Homo sapiens: one gene and its partners. The protein of the gene in region 3 interacts with the protein of the main gene of each other region in a pairwise test. Each region holds a gene or a part of one and is shown on either strand. Other genes may lie near its edges.

The links.
Region 1: the proteins of SPACA1 (region 3) and CD72 interact in binary tests that used the Homo sapiens proteins (3 or more experiments, as listed by UniProt).
Region 2: the proteins of SPACA1 (region 3) and NRSN1 interact in binary tests that used the Homo sapiens proteins (3 or more experiments, as listed by UniProt).

Annotation. Positions count from the first base shown.
Region 1 is NC_000009.12:35,612,330-35,615,455, forward strand, and holds part of CD72 (B-cell differentiation antigen CD72), read right to left. Parts: intron 665-3,126; coding exon 519-664; intron 1-518. UniProt on the Homo sapiens protein: Co-receptor of B cell receptor (BCR) that plays both positive and negative roles on B-cell functions. Recognizes the Sm/ribonucleoprotein (RNP) self-antigen ligand, and coligation of CD72 and BCR inhibits BCR signaling.
Region 2 is NC_000006.12:24,143,202-24,145,769, forward strand, and holds part of NRSN1 (neurensin-1), read left to right. Parts: intron 1-2,346; coding exon 2,347-2,568. UniProt on the Homo sapiens protein: May play an important role in neural organelle transport, and in transduction of nerve signals or in nerve growth. May play a role in neurite extension. May play a role in memory consolidation.
Region 3 is NC_000006.12:88,046,275-88,050,660, forward strand, and holds the start of SPACA1 (sperm acrosome membrane-associated protein 1 precursor), read left to right. Parts: upstream 1-1,566; 5' UTR 1,567-1,631; coding exon 1,632-1,839; intron 1,840-4,386. UniProt on the Homo sapiens protein: Plays a role in acrosome formation and establishment of normal sperm morphology during spermatogenesis. Important for male fertility.

The DNA of each region.
Region 1 (3,126 bases), on a different chromosome or scaffold from region 3:
ATCCCAGCACTTTGGGAGACTGAAGCAGGTGGATCACCTGAGGCCAGGAGTTAGAGACCAGCCTGACCAATATGGTGAAACCCCGACTCTATTAAAAATACAAAAATTAGCTGGGCGTGGTGGCATGTGACTGTAGTCCCAGCTACTCAGGAGGCTGAGACGGGAGAATTGCATGAACCCAGGAGGCGGAGGTTGCAGTGAGCTGAGATTATGCAAGTGCACTCCAGCCTGGGTGACAGAGTGAGACTCTGTCTCAAAAAAAAAAAAATGTAGATATGGTTAAGTTTCCATTCTCATGCCAACTCTAATCAGTTACTAGGGGCTGCCTGGACCACTGTGCTGAGAAGATGCAGAGGTTGTTTCCAAGCTCAGAGGTCAAGAGTATTATGATTCTCAGTTTCTTCCATGGAAAAGGAATGGCCACCCCAGCCATGTGTGCACTGCCATTCCTGACTTGATGACATATGTCCCTTTACCTAATAGTACCCACTGCAGTCTGTGAGTAAGGATATGCTTACTGATTGTGGATAAATTTCACTGAATGTGGCCAGCTTGGAAGACAGAGTTTCACATTGTTTTTGGCTCTCCTGCCAATTTTTTGAAGTAAGTGAGATGTAAAAGCAGCTTTTCTGATGCATTATCCATCCCGACGGACAGCAGGTGTCTAAAAAGCAGAAAGAGTGTGATAGCAGCAACAGTTGGGATGAAAGTGACTACTCAGCAATCTTTTGCTAACAATATTCCCCCAGAGCTAATCTCAGCACCTTCATGGACTTCTATGATCTTTGCAATCTTTCTTTTGCATCCCCTGGAAACACCATACCTGTCCTTACTTAGTAAAAAGACTTTAACATTCAACAACATTACTTCTTAGCAATCTGGGAGGTCTGTCTTAATAGGGCTGATTTTATTACCCCAATTTCTGAACAATTGCAGTCCACCCTGACACTTTACCTAACATCTCTTGGGCCCATCTCCTCCACTCCCTAAAGCACCCCTCACTGCACATCCTCCACTCCTCCAGCACTGGCCCCCTCCGTCCCTCTCCAATTTCCTACAAGCAGAAAATGTTGTGTACTGTTTTGCAGAAACTGAGCTCTCTCCTTTTCCCTCCTCTCCACCTCAAAATTTCTCTTCTCTGTTCTTCTTTTCCTGACTATCCATAAGAAATAAATATCCCTCTTTCTTCAACATCCTACATCCCAATGTGCACTTCTGATCCCAGGCCACCTCTCTCCATTGCTTTGTTCCATCAGTCCTACCTTCATCACTCAAAAATCATTCCCTCTCCACTAGCTCCCTCTCTTCTCTCTACATATGCTCATGTCCCCACCCTGCTACTCCCTTGAGCTACTGTCCTATGGCAACTTAAAGGAATAAAAAGAAATCCCTGCTGGGCACAATGGCTCACTTCTGTAATCCCAGCACTTTGGGAGGCCGAGGCGGGGTGGATCACCTGAAGTCAGGAGTTTAAGACCAGCCTGGTCAACATGGTGAAACCCCACCTCTACTAAAAATACCAAAAAATACCCAGGCACCATGGCGCATGCCTATAATCCCAGTTACTCGGGAGGCTGAGGCAAAAGGATAGCTTGAATCCAGGAGGCAGAGGTTGCAGTGAGCCCAGATCACACCACTGCACTCCAGCCTGGGAGTGCACTTCAGTCTCACAGAGCGAGACTCCGCCTCAAAAAAAAAAAAAAAGAAATCTGTATGGCCAAATGGAAGAGGGTGAGGAGATAAGTGGCACACTGAAAGGTAGGCAGGAGTGATGGAAGCCATGTTAAGGATTTTTATTTTTATATTATGAGGAAGAGAAAGTCAGTGTAGGGTTTTACATAGAGGAATTTTGTTCACTAGCTATATCCCAAGTGCCTGGGCACAGTGCTAGAACATATTATATGTTATGTATTCCATAACTGTTTATGTAATCAATTAACTGGAATGCTGTAGATTGGGTGACACGATCAGATTTTTGTTTGTAAAAGATTACCCTGGCTCCAATATGAAGAATGGACTGCAGGGAGAGGAGTGAGTAGGAAAAACATTTAGAAAGCTGTTGCAGATATCCTTGCAAAAGATGAGGATGGGCAAAAATCCATATGGATATATAGACTTGGTGATGGAAAGTGAAGGGAATTCCTCTCTGAAAGAGTGGAAGATGAGGACATCTGCTGAAAGTGAGGGAGAAGGAGTTACTATGGAGAGCAAGCTGACCATTGCAAAGGTTGCCAGGCAGTGCTGAGAGACTAGAGTCTCAGTGGCACTGAGCAGAATGATTCCACAATTTGTCACACCTTGATGCTGACCATGGGCAGTTGGGTTCATCCAGAGTTCAAATTTTGCCCATCAGGTACACTAGAAGGATAATGGAACAAAGAAGTGAGTGAGCCAGGTGCGGTGGCTCACGACTGTAATCTCAGCACTTTGGGAGGCTGAGGCAGGAGGATCGCTTGAGTCCAGGAGTTCGATACCGGCCAGGGAAACATAGTGAGACCTTGTCTCTATTTAAAAAAATAAGTGAGTAGTTGAAGTGATGGGCTCCAAACCCATGTTAGGTAGGGAGAGAAGTGTGGACAGGAGAAGCTGATGGGAAGAGAGAAAAAGGGGAATCAGTTGATTGGAGGCCTGGACTGATGGGAAGGGAGAAAAAGGGGAGTCAGCAGATTGGAGGCCTTGATGAGATCAAAAAAGTGTGGGGAAAACCTGCAGGAGTGGTGGGCAGCTGTGATCAGAGTGGAAGTCTGAAACCATCCTTTCGCCGGAAGAGCAATTTGGGAGGTAGAGGTCTAACATGCTGCTAAGAGCAGCCCTGGCATGGAACTGATGGTCACAGAGGGTAAGGTTAAGGAAATGAGGGCAAGGGGTGTCTGCACATAATCTTGCTGTCTTATGCCTGGGGAGATCACCCAGATGACCCCCAAGCTAGACAGAGCCTAAACCTGATCATAGCCCAAAAACACCCCAGTCCCCTTAGGCGTGGCACCTTGCCTAGACCCTCAGCCTGTTTTGATACAGCCTTGCCTCTTTTATGTGTCCCTTTCCCCATCTCCACTTACTGGCTGGGGTCCTGCTTTCAAAATGAATGGACACCCCATCCTAGTTCCCTACACCACAACTCCCAGC
Region 2 (2,568 bases), about 64 Mb from region 3:
TCACCTCTCAGTCTCAAACTCCTGACCTCAGATGATCCACCCACCTTGGCCTCCCAAAGTGCTAAGATTACAGGCATGAGCCACCATGCCCGGCTAAAGTATGCTTCTTTAACCTTATAATCCTCAGTTTCTTATAGGTGAAATTGGAATAAAAATACCTACTTCTCATAAGATGCTTGTGAAGATTAAACAAAAAACACATCTAGCATTAGTGCAGGTCATAATAGATGTTCAATAATACCAGTTATACTTTTCCCATTTTTGCTAGGGTGATAGATTTGTGGATACGTTTTCCTTCTATTAGCCAAGCCTCCTTTATTAGTATATTATCTCAAAAATTTAAATATTAAAGATTAATTTATGTTATGTATCTGGTTATTTTCCTAACCTTGTTATTCTAACTAAAAGCAATTAAGAACAGAAGGAAAGGAAAAATTACTTTAAAAAGTAATGGTGTTAGCTATTCCTTATTCCAAGTGCTGAGCAATCGTAATACTGTTACCAATGTAGCATAACAATTTTTCAAGGGGTGTCTTTCCAAATAAGAAGAATAGCTACTTATTACAATTTATAATTTTGCCAGATACAATGTATAACTTTGCCAGATACAAGGCTAAGTGCTTTTATGGATAGTCTCATTTAGTCCTCACAAGTCCTCTATGAGGTAGGTATTATGAGCATTTGTCATTTTATAGATGGGGAAATTAATGACAAGAGCTTTTAAGTAACTTTCCTTCTATGATTCAAGTGCTAGGTGGTGGTGGTAGAATCGAAGCATGCGTCCATTTATTTCAAACCTATGGGCATTGACCACCAAATGGTACATCATTTCCATCTTTAGTATGTTACATTTCATTAGAACTTGAGCTAATGCAGTTTAACCTCCATCTGCTATTCTGAACACTTCCTAGCACCTGCACAAGTATACCCCAAATAGCTACATGTGAGAGGAGAAAGAACACTGGCCTGGGGATCAGCTCTGTGGGTTCTAACCCTGCCTCTGCAGCTTGCTAGCTGTCCATCTTTGGTCCATGACTTACCCTCTCTGACGCTACATTTCTTTACCTTAACTGGCCATTAAGGTTCCTTCTCTGCTTACTTTGAAAAGAGGTGAGTAGTTACAAAGACTGTCCATGTCCTCCAGCCAAAACCACCAGGAACACACCTATATGTTGAACAAGTTGGATGTATTACTCATTACAGTAAGAAAGAATGTCACCATAGGGGACTGTGGGGCATTGCAATATGAGAGTGTGAAAAGGATGTATAATATTATAGGATGTGGGCTCTGGTTGGGTGATTTTGGGGAGGGTCTAATGAAGCAAGAGTTCACTCTGGATTGTTAGGGACAATTCTATGATTGGATATCTTAATATATCTTATGTATAGAGAGGACAGACTAGAGTGAGACTAAAGCCATCATGAGAAAGAAGTAGGTGTCATTCATATTAGCCAGGAGCGGGGGTCATGTCGTATTTTGTGGTTTTTACAAGGACCTTGTTTTTGTCTGTGCTTAGACAAAGTTATGAAGGGCTACTGTTTTGTCTCACTTCATCATGGTCACAGAATGAGCATGTGTTAATGTTCTGTGAGATGGTGCCTGGCAGAACAGCATGGCCTTGCTGTGAGCTCCTAGCCAGCTTCTAACAATGTCGAGGCCTAGGGGACAGAGTAAGGCCAGCTCCTGGATATCAGGGCTACTCTTCTTTTCCTCAAGACCAAATGAGACAATGTAAGCAAAAGAAGGTTTTGTCAACTGCAAAGCATTGTACAAATTTAAAAAAAAAAGATATTTATATATATATTTACATATTACATATCTACTTTTAGATATATGATATATATTATATATAATATATATCTTTAGGTATATAATATATATTATATATTTTATATATATCTTTAGATATATATATAATATACATATCTTTAGACATATAATATATAATATATATATCTTTGGACATATATATTATATAGATCTTTAGCTATATATAATATATCTTTAGATAATATAAAGATTATATATATCTTTAGATAATATAAAGATTATATATATATCTTTAGATATACAATATATGTATATCTTTAGATATATAATATATATATATGATATATACATATATCTCAAGGCTGAGTGCTGGAGTTTTTGGTTGGCATTAAAATTAGAAAGATCATCTTTCACCTTTTTCAACAGAAAATTAAGTAAGTGTTTCCTGCAAATTTGGGGTAACTGGGAATATTCATTTCTCTCAAGAAACAAGACAAGTGCTGCCCTTGAGGGCTCAGGGGCGAGCCGAAGCACCTTCCTCACTCTATCTTGCTTCTGTCATTATCTACCTGTAGGTTGGACTCATCTCAGGTACAGTTTTTGTGATCCTCGGATTGACTGTTCTGGCAGTGGGCTTTCTTGTGCCCCCCAAAATCGAAGCATTTGGCGAAGCCGATTTTGTGGTGGTCGACACACATGCTGTCCAGTTTAACAGTGCTCTGGACATGTACAAGCTGGCAGGAGCTGTTCTCTTCTGCATTGGAGGCACGTCCATGGCAGGGTGCCTGCTGATGTCG
Region 3 (4,386 bases):
TCTTTATTTCAGAGTTAAATCTTTCAGGTCCTCTTTGAGACCCATCTGGCTCCCTTTGGAGATGATTATTTGTTAGATTATTAATGTTTCCTTGAGTCAAATTACATATTTTAGAGTTTATGGGACTTCCTCTGCTAAAAAAGGATACTATCTTCAGGAAGCAATGGATCCTAAAATTGACTTTGAAACACTCAACAATTTGCCAGCAACAATACTATATATCATCTTTTTAAAGTTTGTGTTTGACGGCATAATTTTTGACTTATTTCTCTCAGGATTCAAAAAAGAAAAATTTTGACTCATTTAGCCATGAAACAAAGGCCTTTACTTCTCAAGATCAAATCTAAGTTTTCCATGTTAACGTCCCTCATAATCTTGTCAAGCGCTATATTTTAAGGTATTTTAATTGACATAAATGTTCCCGAGACTTCTCACCAATACCAATTTGAACTTTAACACTGAAGGTGTTTAGCAGTCCTTGTATTTTCAAAATTAGAAGCCTTTGCAGGAGAAAATATTCAAATACAAAATTTCAACTTCTGCTTCAAACAACCTATTTTGTTACAAATAAGTGTTTCTGAAGAACCTCTTAATACTTTTCTGTTACCCCCCTTATCTGTTAGTCTGCTGAGACTAGATATTCAAATATTCCAAAAGCCAGAGTGTATGCAAGTTCACTTTCATCTCACTTGTCATAGGAATTTAAACATTAAGCCTCAAAGTATGGCACCCTATATGTCTTTTCAAAAACAACAACAAACAACCACATTGTGACTACTAGATGAGGTAAAATTTGTAATAACAGAATCAAAAAAGTCAACCCTAACTTTTCAGCGCTTGAACTCCCAATCACCCCCACTAAAGGCTTCTTCGTTAACCTTGAATCATAAGAATCACTGATCATCGAGTAAGTAAGTGTTCGGGAGATATGACTGTGAGATCCAGCTTTGTAAATAATTTCTGGATTTTTGGGGCGAGTCATTTCATCTCTCTGATTCTTAATCTCTTCACTTAAAAATGAGGGACTTGGAGTATCAGATGATTTCTAAATTTCTTCTTACTCAAAGTCTATTATTCTGATCCCAAAGAAGAAATCGAATCCTTCTCAATACATCCCAAATTGGATATTCTGGATAAGAAATTTTGAAACCAAGTCACACGAAGAGTATGTGAGGGATAAGAAGTCTAGTTTGGGGAAGGGTAAACATTATGTACGAAAAAGAAATGTCTTAAAAGAAAGCAGGCAGGGTGAGCGAGGAGGCTGAAGAGTCGCTCCATAAACTGAGGCAGAAGGAGCAGCCGACAGCAACGCCTACCGCACCCGGAAGGCTCAAGGAGGCGCCCTGGGCAGGGAACTTCCGGTTGCGGGGAAGGGCGGCGTCCTCTCCTAGGGACTTGTCGCACGCGGCTTCTCGTCGCGTTCCGTCTTGCACGCCTCGCAGCCTAGCTCCGCGCGAGTTCCAGGCGCTCAGCACCGGAGCAGCGCCCCGGCAACCATTGAGGCGTCACGGTTCGTCACGGGATTCGGAGCCGGGCGGCTACGGGCGGGGTGTCGCAGCTCTCTTCGACGTACCTGTCCTCAGGAGCCGCGGCGGCGACTGCGCCTCGGACGGCCGTCGGGGCCGAGAACCATGAGCCCCAGGGGCACGGGCTGCTCCGCCGGGCTGCTGATGACTGTCGGCTGGCTGCTTCTGGCGGGCCTCCAGTCCGCGCGCGGGACCAACGTCACCGCTGCCGTCCAGGATGCCGGCCTGGCCCACGAAGGCGAGGGCGAGGAGGAGACCGAAAACAACGACAGCGAGACCGCGGAGAACTACGCTCCGCCTGAAACCGAGGATGGTGAGGGCGGGAGCTCCCTTGCGGGGCACGCGGAGGCCCCTGTTGACGGAGCAAAGGCCTGCTCTTTGCCTGAGAACCATAATTATGTGTGTTAACGTCAGGAGAGCTCTCTCTCATACTTCAGCCCCGAGTTTGTCCCTTTCTTGCATCCTGTGGCCTTGAAGAAGAATGTGCTCATTCTCCCAGGCCACAGCAAGATACACAGATAAGCACGTATATAGAAATTGCTATAGAAACACTTCTAAATATTGCTTTGGACAAGGAAAAAGATTTTTTTTCAGGGTGGGAGGTAGCCTTCCAACAAGAGGAATCATTTTGACTCCTCTTGCAGTCACTTTCCCTTCTCATAGTAGATTTTTTTTTTCAAGTTCCAAGTTGCTTGATTTCCACATTTGCACTTGGGGTTGCAATGGAATTCAGAATCCCCCTTTACGACGATACACCCAGATAGACCAGTATGCCGACAAAACTGCCCAGAAGCCCCATGGCAGCTTCCTGCAGCTCCTAGCCTTGAGCACCTCTGCATTGTGGTGTTTGATTGGTATGTGCGGCCTCGGACAAAGGAATGGAGCAGTAGAAAACACCTGTCAAGGGATCCAGCTAGTGGCTTTGTTAGATGCTACATATTAACCAAGGAACAATGAGCCCCCCGCTTGGTACATACATTTGCTTTTTTTTCTGCTGGCTCATTAAGCAATAAAACTTGACAGGCTGTTGTACATGTCATATTGATTAGTAACTCACATTCTAGCAGGTAGAAGGTCAGCAGCAGGTTTGCTGCCTTCTCAAGAAAGATTATTCCTTTCCCTTCTAAATGACCCAGCTGCAATTCTTTTAATATTGTTTGCATTCTCATATCTCTTCAGTCTATACATATCGAGTGACTGCTGTGTCTACCAGCCTTTCTTTCATTTCCTGATAGTGATCCTCAGCACCAACAGAAAGAAATGAACTGTCTGAGGTTAACAGTGGGATCGAGGTTTGCACGGCCTTGTAACATTATACTACAGAGAGCTTAAAAAGATCCTTGACTTCGGAAATGTGAAAAAGAAAGATGACTAGGAAAGAAGAGAACACGTCCTAAAGCATAGTAGCTATTGCTTCATTCTCTTCTTTAAAGTAATTGAATTAACAATTTTAGTATTAAACTGGCCAAGAAATACTTCTAGCTATAAAATGCTAAATATTATTTAGGCTAAACTCAGGCAATAAAGTTATAATGTCTTACCTTCAAATTAAAATGTAGGTTAGTTACTTATTCTCTGAGTCACAGTTTCCTCATCTACGGACTTCAAGGAATCCATGTACTTTGTGGGATTTTAATACATACTATTTCATGCATAAGTGCTTTTTCTTGGGGAGCGAGAGAATCCAAAACTTTAAACAATCTGAGGTGTTATAGGTCTGAAAATTTCCAGAACCATTATTGAAATTTGCACTGTCCCCTTAACCCTCAGTGGATCAGTAGAAACAGTTATCCCCATTTACTATCCAGTGGACCTTTAATTTTTTTTTAGTCATTTAAAAATAATTTACAAATAAGAATAAAGGGATAGTGAAAACAACTGTGTTAGAAATTTCAAGAAGAATTTAAACATGGAAAAATTCAAATTTTTATTCCATATATCCTAGTTTTGAAGGTGTATGTACTCTAACTGGGCAAAGTACTTTGAATGCAACTAAGTGCTCAACTGTTAAGCATGAACCTGGAATGCATTCATCATGTTAATACTGATTCCAGATTTTGAGTGCATCGTTAATAAATTCTAGCTTATCATTAATCTTGGTTCTTTTTGCACTTGTATTGTCAAAAAAACCAACACTTTTGAAAACTACAAAGGCATATATTTTGTTGAAGAGAAAGCCATCTTCTTTTCTTCATAATTGGAAAATATTTTCATCTTTAGATTTATAAACACCAATTAGAATGATTGGTCCAATGAATTTTACTCATTTCTACATAATCTTTTCTTTCAGTCACCTTTATATACATATCTTTCATCACAATATGTTCATTTACAAACCTTGGCAAATAAATGTTGGTGCATAAACGTTATAAAAAGGGAAAGAATACCGTCCTCATCCTTTTAGCGAAACAGTATGGCACAAGTTATTGTCACAGTATATTTCAGGATTAAATCTTTCCTGTTGTCAGGCTAACTACATGATAATACCATATATTCTTTTCATCCCCAGAAATATAATGTTTACTCATCAATTCTTAAGTTAGAGAAAATTCATCTAGTATATTCATCCAAGATAATCATCATCTCTCATTGAGATTTTGCTTATACAATCAATTTCATCATCATCATTAGCATCCAAAGTGCTGTTATCTGTCTCTTTTCATCTTCTGATTCGTTCAATAATTGTGAAATGTTTTTCTCTGTCAGTTTTCTTCTCTTTGCCATTATGGGCAAAAAATGAAAAATTGTGAAATCTCAACTGTGTTCAATAAAAGCCAAAAATAGACTACAAGGAGGATACCTCTAGACTTCTTTTGTATCTTCTTGAAAGATGATGCAATATCTTGGGCAAAGCAATATG